Homo sapiens: one gene and its partners. The protein of the gene in region 1 purifies or fractionates together with the protein of each later gene. This does not show direct contact. Each region holds a gene or a part of one and is shown on either strand. Other genes may lie near its edges. The genes, in order: TRMT5, SENP8 and PSTPIP2.

The links.
Region 2: the proteins of TRMT5 (region 1) and SENP8 fractionate together in Homo sapiens (co-fractionation; one large-scale study listed by BioGRID). This does not show direct contact.
Region 3: the proteins of TRMT5 (region 1) and PSTPIP2 fractionate together in Homo sapiens (co-fractionation; one large-scale study listed by BioGRID). This does not show direct contact.

Annotation. Positions count from the first base shown.
Region 1 is NC_000014.9:60,978,919-60,982,673, forward strand, and holds the start of TRMT5 (tRNA (guanine(37)-N(1))-methyltransferase), read right to left. Parts: upstream 2,106-3,755; 5' UTR 2,056-2,105; coding exon 2,045-2,055; exon of another isoform or gene 2,018-2,044; coding exon of another isoform or gene 1,926-2,017; intron 969-1,925; coding exon 313-968; intron 1-312. Other genes in the region: SLC38A6 (solute carrier family 38 member 6), read left to right, coding at 2,360-2,464, 3,590-3,720. UniProt on the Homo sapiens protein: Involved in mitochondrial tRNA methylation. Specifically methylates the N1 position of guanosine-37 in various tRNAs. Methylation is not dependent on the nature of the nucleoside 5' of the target nucleoside.
Region 2 is NC_000015.10:72,124,888-72,128,542, reverse strand, and holds part of SENP8 (sentrin-specific protease 8), read right to left. Parts: intron 1-3,655. UniProt on the Homo sapiens protein: Protease that catalyzes two essential functions in the NEDD8 pathway: processing of full-length NEDD8 to its mature form and deconjugation of NEDD8 from targeted proteins such as cullins or p53.
Region 3 is NC_000018.10:46,002,632-46,006,286, reverse strand, and holds part of PSTPIP2 (proline-serine-threonine phosphatase-interacting protein 2), read left to right. Parts: intron 1-755; coding exon 756-818; intron 819-3,655. UniProt on the Homo sapiens protein: Binds to F-actin. May be involved in regulation of the actin cytoskeleton.

The DNA of each region.
Region 1 (3,755 bases):
GCCTAACAAGTCTTGTGTACCAAAAAGATCTCTCCTCAATGTAGCTGCCAAAGCATGTGATTCAAGTTTAATCTACACTGATGTATTGTTGTACACAAAAGCCTGGACCAGTATTTGGAACTTGCTATGACTAAAGAAGATATTTCAAAATGGCCCTCAAAAGAGGGTATGTAGCTCAAGATCTAGCTTAAAGTTAACATGATAAAATGTTCTGCCTCTGTAACTTGGCATTAAAAAAAATAATTTTTAAAGCTAAAATTAACAATTTGCAAATTCCCTTCAAATACATGAATATTACTATGACACACGTACCAATTAAATGTTTGAAAGGCAGCTGATGATCTCGAAGGTTTAGGTGTGCAATATGTCCAATCCTGCTAAACCCTGAAGTTACATCTTGACCTTCAGGAAGCACAGCTCTCAAGATTTCTTCTGACTTAAAGTGTTCATATGTTAGTTCCAAATTGTATTTAGAGATCTGTGGACTGACATTAAGCTGCTCTAAAACACTGAGTTCTGCTTTCTCAAAGGAATCATGAGTAAATATTTTATAGGGATCCAACATGATTAGTCTACTTTCTTTATCTTCCGGATCTTCAATCACACGTCTTATGCCTGGGCGCTGCAATGCTGCCCTTTTTAGGGATCGCATCAATTTACTGACTATTTCTTTCCTCACTTTAAGCACTGGAATGTTGACTGTCTTTTTAAAAGCTGTTCTATCAAGTTTTGTCATGCCTCGGACATCAGAAGGTGGTGAAAACAATTCAGTCTCTCTCTCATGTGTTTCTGTTTCTGGCATGGTTGAGAATCTTTTTCTTTGACCCAATAAGAAAATACCAGGTGCTTCCAAAAGCATCTGTGTCAGGGATGTCCAAGCTACTGGAATCAACGATTTTGATTCAGTTATGCTATGGCTTTCCAGTTTCAGAAATCTTCCTGAGAATCCAAATGGCCTCCATAAGATCCTTAAAAAAAAAAAAAAAAAATTCACACACGACAGCTTTTGAGAATAAAAATCTAAATTCTACTATCTCAAATAACGGGCTAAATGCTGACAAATAAAACGTTTAGTGATGTGTGGGAAGTATACTATCTTTTCCAGACTAGGATGACTTCTTCAGGAAGTCGTATTAGTGGTAGATAATAGTGGTATATATTAAATTTACACCTTCAACCCATCTGCTCCCAGTTCAGAGGGCTTAGTGATCCATTAGCCATACTCAATGATCCTCTTCACCCACAATTTTCTAGATAATACATTTGGGATTGGAAGACTGAAGTATGAGTTAAATGGTCATCTGTAAATGAAATAGTCATTATACATGACCATTACTAGTGGTGATATTTATTAGGATAGTCTCATGGGTGCTTATTGTGTCAGATACTGCGCTAAATGCTTTATGTACATTATGAATCTTGGGAGGTGTGCAGTATTGCACCCTCATTTTGTAAATAAGTAAACTAAAGCTCAGACGTAAGGTAACCCACCCAAAGTCTCCCAGCTGATAAGTGGCTAAACATGGATTAAAACCTAGTTTTGACTGACTTCGGTGCTTGTGTTCTTAATATATTGCTCTGTTGTTTGTTTTCGATGCTTTACTGCCACATGTCCTGCCTTTAACTAGAGGCTTCTGTATTTTGAGGACGAGAGCTTTGCTGATTGTTATATGCATAGTATCAGTTATTCACTGTCTTCTAAAATACCAAAGAATTTACTTGTAAGGGGAAAGGGCCCTGTCCCAGAATCCTGTAAAGCAACGAAGTCTAACTTCACCGTCAGAGATCAAATTGGTTCTAGCAGCTGACCAGCTGGGTGACCCTGGATAAATTACTATAAGTCTCGGTTTTCCCACCAGTAAAATGTGGCGAAAGGCTTTTGAAACATTCCTTACTATCCAGAACCTCGAAACTAAGCTCAGCACCTAGGCGGGTGGGTGACCTCGCGATGTTTCTGTGCCCAGGCAGCACATGGCAGAGAGCAGCCCTGGGCGGGCTGGTACCTCCCCTGGACCATTAGCCCCTAACGCGGCCGCCACCTCACCAAAGCACCATTCCAATTCCCCACGTCGCTCTGCAGCTGGATCCGCGAGCCGACCCCTCACCTCCCGCTCCGGTACCGATCGGATGTGGGTCGCGGGTGGATGGGCGGGTCTTCTATGACATCATCACTGTTCGCCGCGAAGAGGGCGCGCGTCATCAGATCAAGTCGACTCGCTCCTCTCCTTCCAGGCCCTGGTGAAGTACGGAATGCCGGAAGGGCCGGGCTCAAAGCTCCGCCTCTGGCGCGACCGACGACTGGAGCGCAGGGCAGGGGTAGAGGCTCGTAGATGGAACTGGTAGTCAGCTGGAGAGCAGCATGGAGGCGTCCTGGGGGAGCTTCAACGCTGAGCGGGGCTGGTATGTCTCTGTCCAGCAGCCTGAAGAAGCGGAGGCCGAAGAGTTGAGTCCGTTGCTAAGCAACGTAAGTGGGCTGTGTTCGCTTCCCCGCGCTGACGCCCTCCGGCTTCCCTCAAGTGCCTGCCAAATAAGACCCAGAAAAGGAGGACCGCACCGGGACAGGGGAGATGCTGGAGCCTGAACCCTGGGGGATGGGGTCTGAAGGCAGCCGCCGAGATTCAGATGAGATTGGCGCAGTTATGAACGTGATAGCAGCCTAGCATACTCTAGAAAGAAAAGATGAAAAGCGTCGGGTGGAAGAGATGCAGCGTTGAGTGGAAGCTGCGAACATGATGGGATGAGCGGCCCTAGGATTATGTACTCACTGCTGTTAGTTAGTATTTTTGTCACCTTATTTTCTCCACCAGTCTCGTGAGGTCTTTGCAAGAGTCACAGGATTTTCCTCTTCCGACTTAGTCATGGGGGGAGGGAAAATAATAAACATTTTAATACAGAAATTCTTAGCGGTAGAATGGAAGTGGCTTGGTAGTAAGTGCATAGCACGTTCCTGACCCTAAAGCCTGTGCAGTGGGCACTCCGCTTTTTAACTCGAGTCCTAGACACTGTTCCCAGGACTTTGTTCCCGGTGCTGTTTGTGGGGAGGGGGATGTTTTCAGGGATACTGCCAGAACAACGTGAATTGCTTCTGTTTATAATATTGTCATTGCAAGATATTCCTGACCATCCTTCCAGTTTGGTAGAACTAATTCATTAGATATATAAGTAGAGATTAGTTGTGCAGTCCTAGTAATTGAGGAGAAACAACTGCCCACAGCAGTCCCAGGTTGACTCAGCAATTCTTTAGTAATCACATGAGCTGAGGCCTTATCCCTCCTCTCTCTCCCCACTCCATTCCCATCCTATCTTCATCTCTTGCAGTCACAAGGTTAGTCATGGCCCTTCCTGAACTCTGCCTGTCTTGTGTACTGGTGGAAATCATTTTCCTAAGAAACCCTAGATTCCTGGAGCTGCAGTAGTGGGAGGTGGGAAGGAAAGGAAAGGAAATTAGTGTTGGTTAAGCAACGAGTGTGTCATACAAACCCTGGTGGTTTGCAGCTTTTTTCCATAATCTTTCATTTATGGAATTTCTTTACGAAATTTTAACTTCACCGTCCAAACATTTAACACTACTAAATTTGTGTGCTTACAGGAACTTCACAGACAGCGATCCCCAGGTGTTTCATTTGGTTTATCAGTGTTTAATTTGATGAATGCCATCATGGGAAGTGGCATCCTTGGCTTAGCTTATGTTTTGGCTAATACCGGTGTCTTTGGATTTAGGTGAGTCTTCATATTTTAGCATCAAATTTTTTTTT
Region 2 (3,655 bases), on another chromosome or scaffold:
ATAAAATATGAGAATCTCACAGAACTTTTGCAACTGTGGCAGGCAATTTTTTCTGTTTCATTCAGTCTCCTCTGTTGGCTTGGATACTTCAGGGGAACAGTCTAATAATTACCTATAGCTGATGTGTTTATGACATAAACCTCAAATTCTTAGGAGTCAGATTCCCTAATAATAAAGGAATGAGCACAAGCTTATGCTTTAGCAGCTTAAATGTGTACAGGAGAGAAACATTTATTAAAGTAAATTTATTCATTTGGTTAAAATATATTTATTGGTGTCTTATGTGTCCCAATTTTGCCTGCCATAATCAGACTGAAAATTGAACCTGGTTACTATATAATGGATTACAGACATCATCCAAGAGTTAGTTTTTTTCTTTCTCTCTCTCTCTGTTTTTTCTTCTTCCCCTCCCCTCCCTCTCTCCCCTCTCCCCTTTCCCTCTCTCTTTCTTTGAAAACGTCTCACTCTGTTGCCCAGGATGGAGTGCAGTGGTGCAATCATAGCTCACTGCAGCCTTTAACTGATGGGCTCAAGTGATCCTCCCACCTTGGCCTTCCAAGTAGCTATATGCACTATACGTGCATACCACCATGTCTGGCTAATTAATATTTTTTTTTATAGAGGCAGGGTCTCACTATGTTGCCCAGGCTCATCCCAGAGTTTTCTATTGTCTTCACACTTCACATCCAATTGACAAGTCCTGTTGATTCTATAGCCTAAATGTTCTAAATCTGTCCAATGCTTTCCATCTTCACTACTATCACCTTAGTCAAATCTATCACCATTTCTTTCTTGACCTAGCCTAACAGGTCTCCTATTTCCACTACTGACTGTGCCAATAAATTCTCCATCAAAATAATTGTTTAAAAATTTAAATTAGGCCAGGTCTGTTCCCTGCTTAGGAGTCTCTAGTAGCTATCATACTCAGAAAAAAATGAAAATTCCCTACCCTAGTTTACAAAACCCTACATGAAAATGTGGCTTCAGCTATTTCTCCAACCTTATCTCCTATTATTTCCCTGCTTGCCCACTAAGACCCAGCCACAAAGACTTTCTTTTTACTCCTCAAATACACCAAGCTTTTTCCCTCCTGAGGGTGGTACTAGCTCTGCCTGGACCTTCTAGTAATTAGCTTCTTCTTTGGACAGATCTTAGTTTAAATGCCACTAAGTCACAGAGGTCTCAGGGCAGCCAAAACAAAGAGGCCACCAGTTACTATCACTCTAATTTCAATTCCTTGAATAGCACTGATTACTATGTGATAGTTTTTTAATTTATTTGTTTATTGGTTCATATTCTTTTTTCCTCCCCCTGCCTCTTCTCTTTCCCTCTCCAAAACAAGAATGTAAGCTCTATGAAAATAAGACGACGAGGGGCCTTGTCTGCCTTGTTTGCCATTTTAACCCCAGGACCTAAAACAGTGCTTACCAGGCAGGTACTCAATAAATAATTGTAGAATAAATGAATAAGTAATTGAGTATACAGCTCAACATAATATAAATCAAGTTCGGCAGAGAAATGTTTACATTTAGAGTCTGGGAAGTGAAAGCGCCTTTACTATCACTTCTAATCTAATTTCCTACTCCATGCAAGAATTCTTCATTTCTGCTCTGAAAGAGAAAGGTGCAGAACCTTGACTTAAAACTAGGGGTGTGGTATTGGAGCAGAAGTAGATAAATCAATAGCATAAAAAAATCATATGTAGATTAGAAATTTTAAATATGATGATGGAGTCTTTACAAATCAATGAGAGAGTCTGTTCTCATAGTGTAGTAGTAATCATGTTTGCCTGACAAATCAGGAGAAATTATGGATTATTCCAGTGTTTTCAGCGTGTTCACGTGTTCCACTGAACATTATGTTCCCATAGCAGTGCTGTCCAATAGCACTTCTTGTGACGGAAATTTTCCTATTTTTTGAGATGGAGTCTCACTCCGTCGCCCCGGCTGGAGTGTAGTGGCGCAATCTCGGCTCACTGCAACCTCTGCTGCCTGGGTTCAAGCGATTCTCCTGCTTCAGCCTCCCGAGTAGCTGGGATTACAGGCAACTGCCACTGTGCCTGGCTAATTTTTTGTAGTTTTTTAGTAGAGACAGGGTTTCACCAGCTTGGCCAGGCTGGTCTTGAATTCCTGACCTTGTGATCCACCCACCTCGGCCTCTCAGCGTGCTGGGATTACAGGCATCAGCCACTGTGCCTGGCCCGGAAATTTTCTTTTATCTGCAAAATGTTCAATACAGTAGCCACTAGCCCCTTGTGGCTATTGAGTTCTTGAAATATGGTCAGTGTGACTGAAGAACTGAGTAATTTTAATTAACTAAAATTTAAATAGCCACATGTGGCTAGTGCTAGTATACTGGACAGCTCAGTTCCACAGGCTTTCATAGGTATTTCCTGAAATACCTATGAAGTGAGATTACATGGTTAAAAAAAATAGCTCACACCTGTAATCCCAGCACTTTGGGAGGCTAAGGCAGGCAGATCACCTGAGGTCAGGAGCTTGAGACCCGCCTGGCCAATATGGCAAAACCCCATCTCTACTGAAAATACAAAACAAGTTGGATATGGTAGTGCATACTTGTAATCTCAGTTACTTGGGAGGTAGAGGCAGGAGAATTGCTTGAACCTGGGAGGCAGAGGTTGCAGTGAGCCGAGATCACCCCACTGCACTACAGCCTGGGCGACAGAGTGAGACTCCATCTCAAAAAAATAAATAAATAAAATAAATAAATAAATAAAAAAGAAAAAAGATTACATGGTTAATTAAATTAGGAAATGCTAACTCCTAATGCACACACACACACTAGAGGCTAACGAGAGTTTGGCGATAAAAAATTTTAACTTTTTTTCGTATGATCTTTTCCCAAACTTATTTAACCACGAAATAGTCTTTCTTTTTTTTGGAGGAATATCTATCAGTACTTTATTATCTGTATATTGAAGTATGGGATATGCTTGCTGGATTTTTTAATAAGTAGCATTGGCACAACTTGTTAATTATTTGATTAAAAAAGTAAAGAGTTTTACCTCATACCTTACATCAAATTATATTTTAGATAGAATACAAATTTAAATGTTAAAAAGTAAAAAAAAAATTGTTAGAAAATATTAGTTAATACACTTACATGACTAGTCAATAAACACATGAAAAGACACTGGACATCAGAGTAGTAATCAAATAAATGTAAGTTAAAATAAAATTTCATTTTTTTACCTGTCAAGTTAGCAAAGGTGAAGAAAACTAATAATAATTAGCATTGCTGAGAGATTATGGGAAATGAGTAAATGATGCCCCATTTTGATAGGACTGTCATACATGCAAGCTTTTTCAAGGGTAATTTGCCATTATATTGGAATTCTTAAGAAATTTATATATGTAGGTATTATACTTTAAGAAATTTAACTTAAGGGAGACATTAACAATGTGTGCAAAAATTCAACAAGATATTCACCATGGCAGTATTTGTAACAGAAAAACTGGAAACAATCTGGAGTTCAAAAAAGGACTGGTAAATTAAACAACAGGGTTTCCACACGATGGAATAGTTTTCAGCCATTAAATATAATATTGTCAATACAAATTTATTAAAAGAAAAATGTTCATAATATGCTTTGATATAAACATCTGTATATGATAAAAATATACAGAAAAATAAT
Region 3 (3,655 bases), on another chromosome or scaffold:
AGGTCAGGAGTTTGAGACCAGCCTGGCCAACAAGGTGAAACCCCATCTCTACTAAAAGTGCAAAAATTAGCCAGGTGTGGTGGTGCAGGCTTGTAATCCCAGCTACTCTGGAGGCTGAGGCACGAGAATTGCTTGAACCCAGGAGGCAGAGGTTGTAGTCAGCTGAGATCATGCCACTGCACTCCAGCCTGGGTGACAGAGTGAGACTCTGTCTTAAAAAATAAAAAAATGGAATAAAAGAGTAACAGAACAGCTTCTTTTAGTTGTCTTACAAATTCTTTTTTCCTTCATACTGCCCGGGCACCCTGATGGTCATGGATGTGTCACTGATGGGCTGCAGAAATGAATGTTTACAAGTACCGAATTTAACTGTGCTGATGTATACTTATAGAATAAAGACCTCTTTTAAAATATAAATGGCACTTTAACAAAAGTTTTAAAATTCCTTTTTGAAACCAAAGTTCCTTGATTCCAGATTTTACTGAAGAGACTGCTCTAAGGTGATCAGTGAGTCTCCACTGTGTCTGAGAGTTCAGGCTTTGGTGTTTGCCTGCACAAGTTCAAAGATGGGCCCCGTTATTAGCTAGGAATAAGAGCTTAGGCAAATTGTTTGGTCTCTTTTCTCTGAAGATTGTGAAATGTGGGTAATCATTTTGAACACTTAACCCTCAAGATAAGCTGGTATTGATAATGATTTCTGTTTTTATTAATAATGATTTGTGTTTTTATTAAGAGTGTTTATGATCTCTTTACAGACAGAGCTCATAATGGATGCTATCCATAAACAAAAGAGCTTACAATTCAAGAAAACCATGGATGTGAGTCACATTTTATTGTCTTTTTTGGGATAATGGTGACATTTTCTGAAATCCTGTGCTGTGTATGAACATATTCCTACTCAAATAACATTTCAAAAATGTTATTATTTATTAGTGCAGTGTTTTAGGGAAAACAACCTTAAATGCTTTGGGTTTTCTTTTTTGTTGTTGTTGTACATATTATTACATTACCCAGAGATTAAGTTCAGTACCCAATAGTTATCTTTTCTGCTCCTCTCCCTCCTCTCACCCTCCCTCTCAATTAGACCCCAGTGTCTGTTATTTCCTTCTTTATATTCATAAGTTCTTATCATTTAGCTCCCACTTATAAGTGAGAACATGTGGTATTTGGTTTTCTGTTCCTGCATTAGTTTGCTAAGGATGATAGCCTCCAGTTCTATCCATGTTTCCTCAAAAGACATGATTTCATTCTTTTTTATGGTTGCATAGTATTCCATGGTGTATATGTACCACATATTCTTTATCCAGTCTGTCATTGATTGGCATTTAGGTTGATTCCGTGTCTTTGCTATTATGAACAGTGCTGCAATGAACATTCACGTGCATGTGTCTTTAGGGTAGAATGCTTTATATTCCTCTGGGTGTATACCCAGTAATGGGATTGCTGGGTCAAATGGTAGTTCTGCTTTTAGTTCTTTGAGGAATCTCCATACTGCTTTCCACAATGGTTGAACCAATTTATACTCCCACCAACAGTGTATAAGGTTTTTCTTTTTTTAAGGCCTTGGAAAGATTGAAAGTGACACTAGATAGTGGAAATGCAACAGGGTTATCTTTCTGGTAACCCGAGAAAATATAGCAAGTCAGTTCAAATATTTTAGGCAAAGATACAAAAACATATATAGTGTACAATACCCTTTATCTTATAGAATTTGCAATTTTACCCTGTTACTATTTTGAATCTTGATTGCTTACCTATTTTATTGAGTGATCCCTTTCTGTTTTAAGATATCTGAAAATTATAAAAACTTTTCCTTTAAGTAATTTATTTAAAAAATGTTGGCAAGACAGAGATTGGACAAGTTGCTAGAAATCTCTCTCTAGCTTTTATGTATCTGTTGACTCTGGATACAACAAACTCTGTTATTAGAACATATATGACTCCATCTTGACACCGAAGTATCATCATGATATTCTACGAGTAGGATGTAATAGGGAAGTGTCACCAGTGTTGATAGCATATGCAATCTGTTCTGCTGCATTCTTTTTCTCCTTGATGCAGAAATCCCTCAAAAACAATTGATAAATAGGGAATGATGTCAGTGTAATACAGAAATAGTGTTAGTTGATAGATGATTTTTCCCAGACCTTTTATATTTTAAACAATCTGGGGCAAGATTTTTTATAATTAAAGAGAAAGGCTTATCAAAATATAACTTTCTGGCTGGGTATAGTGGCTCACACCTGTAATCCCAGCACTTCGGGAGGCCGAGGCAGGTGGATCACCTGAGGTCAGGAGTTCGAGACCAGCCTGGCCAACATGGCAAAACCGCGACTCTACTAAAAATACAAAAAAAAAAAAAATTAGCTGGGTGTGGTGGTGTGCACCTGTAATCCCAGCTACTTGGGAAGTTGAGGCAGGAGAATCGCTTGAACCCAGGAGGTGGAGGTTGCGGTGAGCCGAGATCGCACTATTGCATACTCCAGCCTGGGCAACAAGAGTGAAACTCTGTCTCAAAAAAAAAAAAAAAAACTCTGAAAGGGGGAGAGAAGAAGGCACACTGGCTAGTGACCTTGGACTCAAAGAACAACCTGACAAGGGTTCCCTGGGCTTTCTTTTTGCCTCATTTATCACAGACTGAGTGCCAAAGAAGCAGGCATCCCAGAAATGCCAATGGTCATAGACCAAAAATTAAAAAAATAAAAAAAATAAATAAAAAGCTCCAAGAAAAACCTGTTCTCTCTAACCAAAAGACCAGAAAAGGGGCAGCCTAGCAGGACAGAAACTTTAGAAAATAACCATTCTACTGCAGCCAAACACCACGTAAAAAACCTGGGGACCCACCTCCACACATCAGCAAAGGCCAAGTGGAGAGTCTAAACTTCCACCACACCAGGCTGTAGAGAGCACCCAACTCCCCTGCCAAGGTGGCAACAGAGAACAAATAGGGGACCAGGACTTTCACTCCCACCAGGAGGTAACAGAGCCTCCTCTACACAGTGTTATTGGGAGCTATGTGGGGAACCCTGACTTCCACCTGCACCGGGAAATAATGATGTACACCCTCTCCCTCCTGGGATGGTGTCTAAGGAGGTCTAGTGGAGAGTGAGAACTTTAACCACTTTCCAGTAGTAACTGGGTCACACACACTCTGTGGTGTCAGTGGAGACCAAGGAGGGGAAACCTGGACTTTCACACTCACATGACAGTAATGAGATGATGCCTCACCTTCCCCTGCTGGAGTGGTGTCCTGAGGAAGCTAGCTAAAACAGAAGCCTTAAATAAAATCCAGAGTCTTGTAACATAATACCAAAAATTCCCCCAAATCAATCAAATATCACTCTTCATACCAGAAAGATACGAAACTCCATGAAAAGAAAGACAATCAATAGCTGCCAAGATCTAGATAACAGAGATGTTGGAATTATGTGACGAAGATTTTACAGCATCCACTATCAAAATATTCAGCAAGCAATTACAAAGACACTTTTTTTGAGATGGGGGGGTCTCACAATGTTGCCCAGGCTGGCCTTGAATTCCTGGGCTCAAGTGATTCTCCTACCTCAGCCTCCTGAGTAGCTGGAATTACAGGCATGTGCCACTACACCTGATTCACACTTGAAACAAATGAAAGAAACAAAGGAAGGACTGGCAA